Regions from separate parts of the Homo sapiens genome. Here region 1 is linked to region 2. A link means that fine-mapping ties the variant in region 2 to the expression of a gene that starts in the linked region. Tissue or cell type: whole blood. Region 2 holds a variant in brackets; the other region holds the start of a gene. Each region is shown on its reference strand, or each on the opposite one. Region 1 holds the start of TMEM237 (transmembrane protein 237). Region 2 overlaps ZNF131 (zinc finger protein 131).

Region 1 (5,379 bases), not on the chromosome of region 2:
TGTGGCCCAGGCTGGAGTGCAACGGCACGATCTTGGCTCACTGCAGCTTCCATCTCCTGGGTTCAAGCAATTCCCCTGCCTCAGCCTCCCAAGTAGCTGGGATTACAGGCACCCACCACCATGCCCGGCTAATTTTTGTATTTTTAGTAGAGACGGGGTTTCACCATGTTGGCCAGGCTGGTCTTGAACTCCTGACCTCAGGAAATCCGCCCACCTTGGCCTCTGAAAGTGGTGGGATTATAGGAGTGAGCCACTACGCCCGGCCAAAGCAATTCTTTCAAAAGTCTGTTGTTCAGACATGACAGAAAAATATAATGGATCAGACTAGGATCTTCAAATCTCTTGATAATCTTGTTCATCAGTGAAACCTGGGAGGTACTGATGAGAAACATGGGCAATTTAAAATTTGTTCTCCCATCCTAAATTTCATATAAAATTCCTTCCTTCCTACATTCCTTTCCATCTCTAGGCCAGGCCCTTTTCTAAGCATTAGGAATACACTAATGAACACAATGGAGAGAACTCTGCTCTTATGAAACTTACATTCTAGTGGTTGAGTATTAGAAACAATGTTAAAAATATATATATGATAATATATACTATATATTATATGCAGCATGTACGATAAAATATATTTATATGCTATATTTAAGACATATCTTGTATACATATCGTGTGTGCATATATATATATATACACAAGATACACACACACAAAACGTAATGAATGAAGGAGACTGAGTGCTACTTTTGTTAGGGAAAGTTTCTCTGAGTTTGAGCTGAGACCTGAATGAGAAAGCAGCAACCGGAACAAATGCAAATATTTTTAGGTTAAATTGGGCTTGGAATGTTTCAGGTAAAAGGACAGCAAGGCTGCCGCACAATTACCAAGGAGAGGTAGGCAGGAGCCAGATTAGTTAGGGCCTTGCAGACCAAGGGAAGTTTGGATTTTGTTTTAATTCAATGGGAAACAAATGGAGGTTTTAAACCACATACTAACACAATTTTTAAAAAGGCCAGTTGCATACACTGGGAAGAATGCGTTTTAGGGCAGAAAGAAAGGTGGGGGGAACCCTTCTAAACCCTCATTTACATGAATAAGAAAAGTGTTTGTAGTTCAGACAGCATTACAGTTGAGAAGTATTTTAGAATCATATAGTAACAGAAATGCCTAGAAGCCAATTTAATGTTCCAAGTATCTCATGCTGCTTGCATAAGACATTTATTCAAAAGGGTTAAATTTTAGACACTCTTGTAGTTTGTCCCATTTAGCAATCCATTCGTTCGAACAGTAGATTAATGCAAGTACTACAAGATTAGGACGAGGCAAGCTGCCGTAATACCATCCAGTAGTCAAAATTACAATTGGAGAAGAATGACAGTCACAGGAACGCGCTATTGTTCTAAAGATGCTACGAAGCGCGCGCGATCGATCCCAGGGCTCTGTTCACGTAACTGATTTCAAAAGTCCCGCAAAAATGACGTTCCACCCACCCAGAGACCCAACCTCTAATCCTCAAAAGTAGGACGGCTCAACTGAAGACAAAAATCCTAACAATTAAAAGTAGCTAAGGCTCGCTTACCACAGGATTCTTCCCCATTCTGCGTTTAGCCGGCCTCGGCGGCCGCCGGCCCCCAAGCACCTGGCGCCCCACCCCTCCCGGCTCGGTCGCGCGCGCAGGCGCAATGCGTCATCGGGCCGCGCCGCCTGGCTAGTACCCCGCGCGCAGCGCCCTGCGGGGATGTTGCGGTGAGAGGCGTGCAGGGACCTGGATTGGCCAGTCCAGACTAGCCCTGCCAAAAAGGGGGCCTCGGAGTTGGGGGTAATGTGCCCAGGAGCAGAAATCTGGCGACCGTGGCGCTGCAATCACAGCTTTCCCGTGGTTTCCTAAGTGGTGGCGGTGATTTGTTTGCGGGAAGCGGGGCGTGACGGAAGACCTTAATTAAAGGACTCCGCAGGCGAACAGATCTCTTCTGGGCAGCTACAGACCTCTCCTCGGAGGAGTCTAGGAGAGGCCTGGCTGGAAGCCCCGGCACCCGCCGGGCCCCGGGCCTCAGATGAGTGAGGCGTCGTCGTGGCAACGCGGGCTCAGGTCCCCGCAAACTTCATGCCAGGCCTCTCTCTCCCACTCCGGGAGTTCGGTCCCGGCCTCGCCTGCGTCTCCGTCCCATTCCTGTGAACACTGGAGGGGCGGATGCGCGCACCCCACGAGCAAGGCCCTCCCTTAGTGATTCCCAGCTCGTTGGCGCCCCCCCACACACACCCACCCCCACTGCCAAGTGTAGCTGTTTACCCGCCACCTCTCGAGGCCGACGCGCCCCTCGCCGCTCACCAGGTGGCCCTCCTCCAGCCGAGCCCCCGAGTCAGTCCTCATGGTGCTCTCCCCGCGGGGCTGCCCCGGCGCAACCGCCGGCGGCCCGAGCCCAGCTCCCCGCGACGCAGCGGCCTCCGGGACCTGTGGGACGCCGGGGCTTCGTGGCGCCTGGCGAGGCAGCCGCCCCCTGAGCCAGGTCCCCGCCCGCCTCTGTCCTGCCAGGCGCTGCTGGGTTTGGGAGGAATGCGTTTACTCTCCAGGACCAACGAGTCTGTGCAGGCCTGGGTGTGTGGATGTGTATTAATATAGGCAATTCTCACATTTTCTCCGATTGCTTACCCTTCATCCCACAACTGTGTAAATCAAATTTGGAAAAACTTTTTCTCAACCTTAAAATCAAATCCAACCTCACATAAATATCACTACAAACTACCTGATTTGCATCGTTTGGTTTGGTTGGGTTTGTTTTTTTTTAAAGATAACTTTCACTTTAAGTAACAGAGAACTACAAATATTTTGAATCATGCATTCTGTTTTACAGTTAAGAAAGAAATGGGAAAGATGGAAGAATGGTGTGGATATGGAGAAGAGAATGATGCAGAAGATGAACAGATACAGGGACAGGGAAAGCGCCTGGAAATCTCAAATCTGGGGAAAGAAAGAGAAACAGCACTTTGTAATGGCATCCTAATCTTGTTACCAAACAAACGGGGCTTGTTGCCCTATACGCACAGAAGCCAATATTATGGCGCTGATTTTTTGAGAAAAGTTTTCATTGTGAGTCAGCTAACAAGGAGACAGGAGTATAGCTCTAATCTGTCTCCCTGTGTTGGCTTTAAGACAGTATTTTTATTAGAAAACGTTTAGGGGGTGGATTCTGGGATTAGTAGGTGATTGGTGGAAGGAAAGAAGCCATCTGGAAAATCCTCTGGCGTTCGCAGTTACCTCTTCATGTCCCTTCATGGGTCGCATGTGCAAATTTTGGAGGGAGTCAGTGTGAAACATGGGGAAAGATTCAAGCTGTGACGCCAGCAAGCTCATTTTGTACAGACTCCAGGTAGCCATCCGTGTTAGTACTAACCACTTTCAGCCAGTTTGCTTTGTTTTGTTTTGTTTTGTTTTTTAATCTCACAATGGAAGAAGTTTAGGCGTTTTATTTAGCAAGTTGTTTTTTATCTGCCGTCCTGCATGCTCAAGAATTTCTGTTAGTCCCTGGTTTCTTTAACTCTGAGACACGGTTTCACTCTTGTGATTTTCTATATATAGGTCTCTGGGATTAATCCATTGCCTTTTTCTAATTTAGGCCTGCATGTAGATATTGGCTGTTAAGGAAAATTAGTGTTTGTCACACCTCTCATGAGAATAATTTTTTCCTTGTAGGCCGATTTGTAAATAGTGAAGGCAGTGCAGTTTCTTGTAGGTTTTGATTTTAGATGTGAAATGTGTACATTAAACCTTTCTTGCTGAGTTAGTCAAGTAAGCACTTTTTGTAAAAGATGTTTTCATAAAACACGTTTCATAGAGTACAGTTTCTAAAGTTAACTATTGCTTATTTTATTTAGGAAAGCTCTTTATTTAAATCTTAAAAAGATCATGTGAAATCTGCGAAAGGTTCTCATACTCAGTGACTTAACATTATTCATATTTCTACCACAGCTGCATATGAGGTAAAGGAAAAAAAATTAAGTTAAAATAGGTAACCACATAACCATACAATAAAAATTTTTTTCAAATAAGATTAATTAATAAATTGCTGCACTTTTAAAGTTGTACACATTAAAATGGGTCAAATACTGTTGTTTTAGATTGCAACTATGGATCGCTGTATCAAGGGTACAGTGTTAAAACTCCAGCATTAAACAAGAAGTCTCATTGAGACTCAGTATCTGAGGAAATCCATGTTGCTGGTACCCACTGAGGCTCCTCCTGAGCCTTCTGTATGGCAGACAACAACTGGGCACATGCATCGTGCAAGCTGTCATTCACAATCACATGATCAAAAAATTGGCCAAACTGAGTTTCCATTCTTTGGGCTAAATTTTCCATCTCTTGTAGGTCTTCATCCTTTAGGAGAAATAGAAAAATATGGATAGTACAGACTTAATTGGACAAATGGAAAAAATACAGTTTGTTATGCTGTCACATTCAGTTGTGAAACTATGTATAAAAACAGTAAGGTCCGAAAATTTTGCACAGATGATTTTCAATAAAGTTTCAAAAATATTTTTTCAAAATTCTACAAAACCAGCAAACTAGAAAATAGTAATTTTTTTGCCCTCTGTTATTGAAATAATGTGGCTAAGTATAGATAAAATAATTTTTTTTTTTTTTAGACAGGGTCCCACTCTGTCCCAGGCTGGCATGCAGTAGGATCATCTCAGCTCACTGCAGCCTCTGCCTCCCAGGCTCAAGTGATCCTCCCACCTAGGCCTCCCAAGTAGCTGGGACTATAGGCACATGCCATCATGCCCAGCTAATTTTTGTAGAGAAAATATAATTATTATAACAGGTATAAACATATCCTTCTAAATTAATGTGAAGCATAAGCAAAGCTGGGAAAAGTATATCACTATCCACAGTATGTCATCCTTTATTTCTTAGAAATGTATTACTGAGATAAAGAAATTTTAATTTGGAAGTTTTTTTAAATAATAAAAGACTGAAGTTTTTATTTTAAAAAATGAGGTCCAATAAATGTCTTCTAAACTACAAAACTTATGTTTTAATCTTTAGTCTTAATGTCTCGTCATGTTTTGCAAAATTTAGTCATAGTTTGCAGACAGATTACTCCCCTCAACTTCCCGTGTGAACTTATCTTACTCTTACCTAAACACTTGAAACTTTTTAACCATATACAACATAAAACCAAAGAAAATGTACCAGTTTAAATAAAATTTAAACATAAATTTCAAGTGAACATTAATCTGATAGGGATAACATTAAAGATACAAAATGGCCACTTTCAACATGAGGATGGTATAAGCCAGTTATATTATGTTTCTACTATTGTGAAATGTTCATTTAATGAAGGTAATTTGGCATTCACTTGGCACTAATGCATTAAA
Region 2 (5,357 bases):
ACCAGCCTGGCCAACATGGCGAAACCCCGTCTGTACAAAAATTAGCTGGGCATAATGGCGGATGCCTGTAATCCCAGCTACTCGGGAGGCTGAGGGGGGAGAATCGCTTGAACCTGGGAGGCAGAGGCTGCAGTGAGCCGAGATCGTGCCATTGCACTCCAGCCTGGGAGACAGAGGGAGAAAAAAAAAAAAGGCTGGGCACGGTGGCTCACGCCTATAATCTTGGCACTTTGGGCGGCCAAGGCGGGTGGATCAAAAAAGAAAGAAATTCACGTATATTAGTGTGTGTATAAGTAGTTCATTCCTTTTTCCTGCTGAGTATTCCATTGTATGGATGTATCACCATTTGTTGATTCACCTGTTGATGGACATTTAGGTTGTTTCAAGTTTTTGGCTATTAGAAATAAAGTGGTTATGAACGTTTGTGTAACAAGTTTTTGGACATACGCTTTCATTTTTCTTGGTAGATACCTCTTAGTAGAATAGCTGGCTTGTATGGTAAGTATATGTTTAATATTCTAAGATACTGTCAGTCTCTTTTTCAAAAATGGTTGTGCCATTTTACATTCCATTCTGCAGCCTATGAATGCTCCAGTTTTTCACAGCCTTGTGAATACTTGATATGGTCAGGCTTTTTTTTATTTTAGCTGGGCTGGTGGGTATATGGTGATTTAAATTTGCATTTCTCTAATGACTAATGGTGTTGGATATTTTTTAATCGGCTTTTTTGCCATCTGTTTGTATTCTTTGGCAAGGTGCCTGATCAAATCTTTTGCCTGTTTTTTAAAATGGGATTATTGTCAAGAAGGGGGCAGCATTGTGGGGGTCTGAGATTTTATCCTGTTTGCAAGGTAGTAACTTTTTAGCTAACAGTTTCATGGATGCCGGCAAGAGACATGAGACTCTTGAGTCCAGAAAAGGGCTTGATTACTTAGAGCAAAGAAAGCAGCATGAGTTCCATGTTTGTATCAGTGTTTCTTGTTCCCTGTCCCCCTAGTCCCACAGGGGTGACACAGTGGCCTAGGTGTGTACCGTGCTCACAGTTGTTTGCATCACAGTTGAGGAATTCTGAGCTTTAGGAAACCCAAATCTTCTATAATGAGCTGCAAGCAAACCTGCCTAACCTTTGCTGTAGAGGAAACATTATTATACTGGACAATAAATAAACCTACTCTCCACTCTGGAAGAGGACAGGCTCTGTTTTCCAAAGTCCTTTGCTGTACAGACAACTTTGAAAAGATAGTCCAAAATAAAAGGCTCTCAATGTCTTTGTTTATAAGACATGCAGAAACATTATGAGTATCCATGGAGAGTTGTCTTGTTCCATATCCTTGTTTCTGTATTATCCTGGCTGGTACTGAATTTTCCCCATAAGTACAGCACTTCTTTAGCCGCTCTGATTAATCTGACCGTAGGGACCAGGACCTGGCTGGGTGCGGTGGCTCATGCCTGTAATCCCAGCACTTTGGGAGGCCGAGGCGGGCGGATCATCTGAGGTCAGGAGTTCGAGACCAGCCTGGCTAACGTGGTGGAACCCCATTTCTACTAAAAATACAAAAAAATTAGCTGGGCACGGTGACACATGCCTGTAATCCCAGCTACTCAGGAGGCTGAGGCAGGAGAATTGCTGAGGCTGCAGTGAACTGAGATCGCGCCATTGCACTCTGGCTTGGGCAACAAGAGTGAAACTCTGTCCCAAAAACAAACAAAAAACACAGGGACCAGGACCTAATCCATTCAGTTTTTCTCCTACTGGATTTATTTAAGGATTTATTGAAGTCAACAGAACTTCAAGCAGCAGGATTTGGGCACCCTGCCGTGTTGACCTTAATCATGCACCCACCACACTAAGGTTCATTCTGGACTCAGCCAACTGAACAAATCCCTAGAAAAACAGGTGACTTTCTTTTTCGGTTTCTGTATTGACTTTTCCACTTAGCCCTGGGCATTAGTCTAAGTATAGCAAGATGCTTTACAATTATACAGGCTCCACATTGTCCCATAGGGAGGATGTCTACTAGGGCAAGTTTTTCATTCATAATAAACCTGGCCCCAGTGGCTTGAAGCTGACATAAATGCCTTCCAGAGCCCAAGTGATATCAGTGAACATATCAGCTTAAGTCATGCACAATGTTGTACCACTTTTTTAATTGGATTACTCCTATTAGGGAAAACTGCCCACGGGATGTGCATAAATAAGTCAGTTATTATTCTAGGAAGCATCCCTTTGAGAATTTCTAACCAAGAGTATCCTTAAATGAGACCTCCACAGTCACCCGAGGGCTGCTTGATCTTCCTTAAACACTTGATGGTCTCTTATAACCACCTCTTAGGTGTAAGTCGTCATTTTGTTTCGTTTTGTTTTGTTTTTTTGAGACGGAGTCTCACTCTGTGCCCAGGCTGGAGTGCAGTGACGCAATCTCAGTTCGCTGCAACCTCTGCCTTCTGGGCTCAAGCAATACTCCTGCCTCAGCCTCCCTAGTAGCTGGGATTACAGGCACCTGCCACCTCACCCTGCTAATTTTTGTATTTTTGGCAGAAATGAGGTTTCTCCATGTTGGCCAGACGGGTCTCCAACTCCCGACCTCAAGTAACACACCTGCCTCGGAGTCCCAAAGTGCTGGGATTACAGGGACGAGCCACCGCGCCTTGCCAGTCATCGTATTTTTGTGAGGCAAGGAAATTAGTACCTGGCTTCCACACAAGAAGCACAGTCCCAGGGGCACATAGGAACCCTGAAAGGAAAGTACTATTTGCAATTGTTCGTGCCTCCAAAGTAGGCACGAACCTGCATCAGTGTAGAGGCACAGATTGATATAGCCTCCAATGTAGTCTCCTTTCCCAGTTCAATTAGAATGATTCAGTCTAGTTCTAGTTTTTGGAGAGACTGAGGACAGGACAGTCAGTTGACTTCTTTCCTATTTATTTATTTATTTATTTATTGAGATGGAGTCCCGCTCTGTCGCCCAGGCTGGAGTGCAGTGACATGATCTTGGCTCACTGCCTCTACCTCCCAGGTTCAAGTGATTCTCC[T/C]GCCTCAGATTCCCCGGTAGCTGGGACTACAGGCACGTGCCACTAGGTTGAGCTAACTTTTGTGTTTTTAGTGGAGACGGAGTTTCACCACGTTGGCCAGGCTGGTCTCGAACTCCCGACCTCAAGTGATCCGCCTGCTTCAGCATCCCAAAGTGCTGGGATTACAGGTGTGAGCCACCACTCCCAGCCGAGTCTGTCCTATTTATCACAAGCTCCTGAATGCCAGCTGACTTGAGTAGTAACTGTCCACCTCATGGACTGATCTCAGCTATGAGAATGGTAGTGGAGCATGGTGTTTTGCCTGCGACACACAGGAGTCATCCCCAGCTGTTTTTAGAAGATATGTTGGTAAAGTTAAGGGAAACCACTTGGCAGGGAATGGCAAACACAGCAGTCAGTTTAAAAATGCTTATAGCCATTGGAGAGACCTGCAACTGAGCATTTTTCTTAATTTGAAAGGTTCTAGGGGCAGTTCTGAAAGACAAAGGTGGTTTGTTTTGTTTTGTTTTTGGAGACAGGGTCTCACTGTGTCACCCAGGCTGGAGTGCAGTGGTGCAATCACAGCTCACTGCAGCTGTAACTTTCCAGGCTCAGATGATCCTCCCACCTCAGCCTCCCAAAGGAGCTGAGACTGTAGACATGTGCCACCATGCCCAGCTAATCTTTTATAATTTTTTGTGGAGATGGGGTCTTACTATGTTCTCCAGGCTGTTCTTAAACTCCCGGACTCAAGCGATCCTCCCGCCTCAGCCTCCCAAAGTGCTGGTATTATAGGTGTGAGCCACCACACCCAGCTTGACAAAGATTATTGTCCCTCCCTGCCCTATATCTTCTGGAGTCGTAAGATGTTTCTCTCCCTAGATGGCAAGATTGTCATTCCTCCTTCACCTCTTTTCCAGTCATCCCCTCCTCTTATGCAGACCTTTCATCTGGTAAGGTCAGGTACAAGAAGGGCAAGGACATTTAAAACTTAGAGACCCATTATGTTTCCCACTTTGGCTCACATGGGCTATTATAAGTGAGTGTACTTGGCAAGCAGTGAATTCAATCAAGTGGTCAGTATTCCTATAAGATGATGTCACTCCATTAAGAGAATCCAGATGGCTGAACTAGAATGAAGTTCGAATTTCCTAACCCTGGCTTTGGCCAGGCTGTCACCTTTAAGAGGTACCAGGCTATTCCAGGATTATTGTTGGGGGAAAAGAAAATGTTTAAGAATGTTCAGGGCGGGCCAGGCGCGGTGGTTAACGCCTGTAATCCCAGCACTTTGGGAGGCTGAGGTGGGCAGATCACCTAAGGTCAGGAGTTGGAGACCAGCCCTGACCAACATGGTGAACTCCCATCTCTACTAAAAAAAAAAAAAAAAAAAAAAAAAAGCAAAATTAGCTGGGCCTGGTGGCACATGCCTGTGATCTCAGCTACTTAGGCTGAGGCAGGAGAATCACTTGAACCTGGGAGGTGGAGTTTGCAGTAAGCGAGATCGTGCCATTGCATTCTAACCTGGGCAACAAGAGCGAAACTCCATCTCAAAAACAAACAAACAAACAAAAATTCAGGGCACAGAATCCTGCTTTTTCAGATTGGGTTTATATTACTTCCCTCCCCTTCTGTCTTCATCATTATCCACGAAGTAGCCAAGAAGACATGATCCCTTTCTAGGGACAGCTAAATTCAGTGATCAAACTGCTTTACTCAGATTTTTGGACAAAGAGGAGGTGAGGGAAGTAGAGTCAGAAATCATTTTGAGTCATTGTTTGAGAAAGCTGTCGCCATACTCAACAAGCTACTCAGTATCTATGGATGGTAGCATGAAACATCCATCAGTACCTTGACTGTTATTGATTAGCTTTTGTGGTCATTTTTGTGTATGTGATAAAGCTGAACCATTATCAGACTGCAGATGGTATAGAAAGGTGAACATAAGACATAGATTAGTTTCAAGAGCCACAGTAGTGTGTCCAGAACCAGCTGATGAAACTGGAACAGCAACAGTGTAACCTAAAGAAGTGTCAGCATGGTGGGGCGGGGTGGCTCACACCTGTAATCCCAGCATTTTGGGAGGCTGAGGTGGGCAGATTGTCTGAGGTCAGGAGTTTGAGACCAGTCTGACCAACGTGGTGAAATCCTGTCTCTACTAAAAATACAAAAACGTTAGCCAGGCGTGGTGGCGTGCACCTGTAATCTCAGCTACTTGGGAGGCTGAGGCAGGGGAATTACTTGAACCAGGGAGGTGGAGGTTGCTGTGAGCTGAGATTGCGCCACTGCACTCCAGCCTGGGCTCCAGAGCGAGACTCCGTCTCCAAAAAAAAAAAAAGAAGTGTCAG

Evidence for each region. PIP is the estimated chance that this variant, and not a neighbour inherited with it, causes the effect.
Region 1: TMEM237 starts here. The variant in region 2 is the best candidate, but not a certain one, in a credible set for the expression of TMEM237 in whole blood (TOPMed, PIP 0.61).

The regions. Positions count from the first base shown.
Region 1 is chr2:201,641,027-201,646,405 of GRCh38, forward strand. It overlaps TMEM237 (transmembrane protein 237), which reads right to left and starts at 2,477. Exons shown (of 13, transcript NM_001044385.3): 1 at 2,333-2,477. The coding sequence starts at 2,374. It overlaps MPP4 (MAGUK p55 scaffold protein 4), which reads right to left. Exons shown (of 22, transcript NM_033066.3): 22 at 3,848-4,378. The coding sequence ends at 4,184. RefSeq lists silencers at 1,576-1,765, 2,336-2,595.
Region 2 is chr5:43,149,081-43,154,437 of GRCh38, forward strand. The region is part of intron 4 of ZNF131 (zinc finger protein 131); the gene reads left to right. Among named protein-coding and RNA genes, the nearest start is that of ZNF131, 31 kb to the left of the region's middle. The variant T/C (reference allele first, on the strand shown) is at 3,034.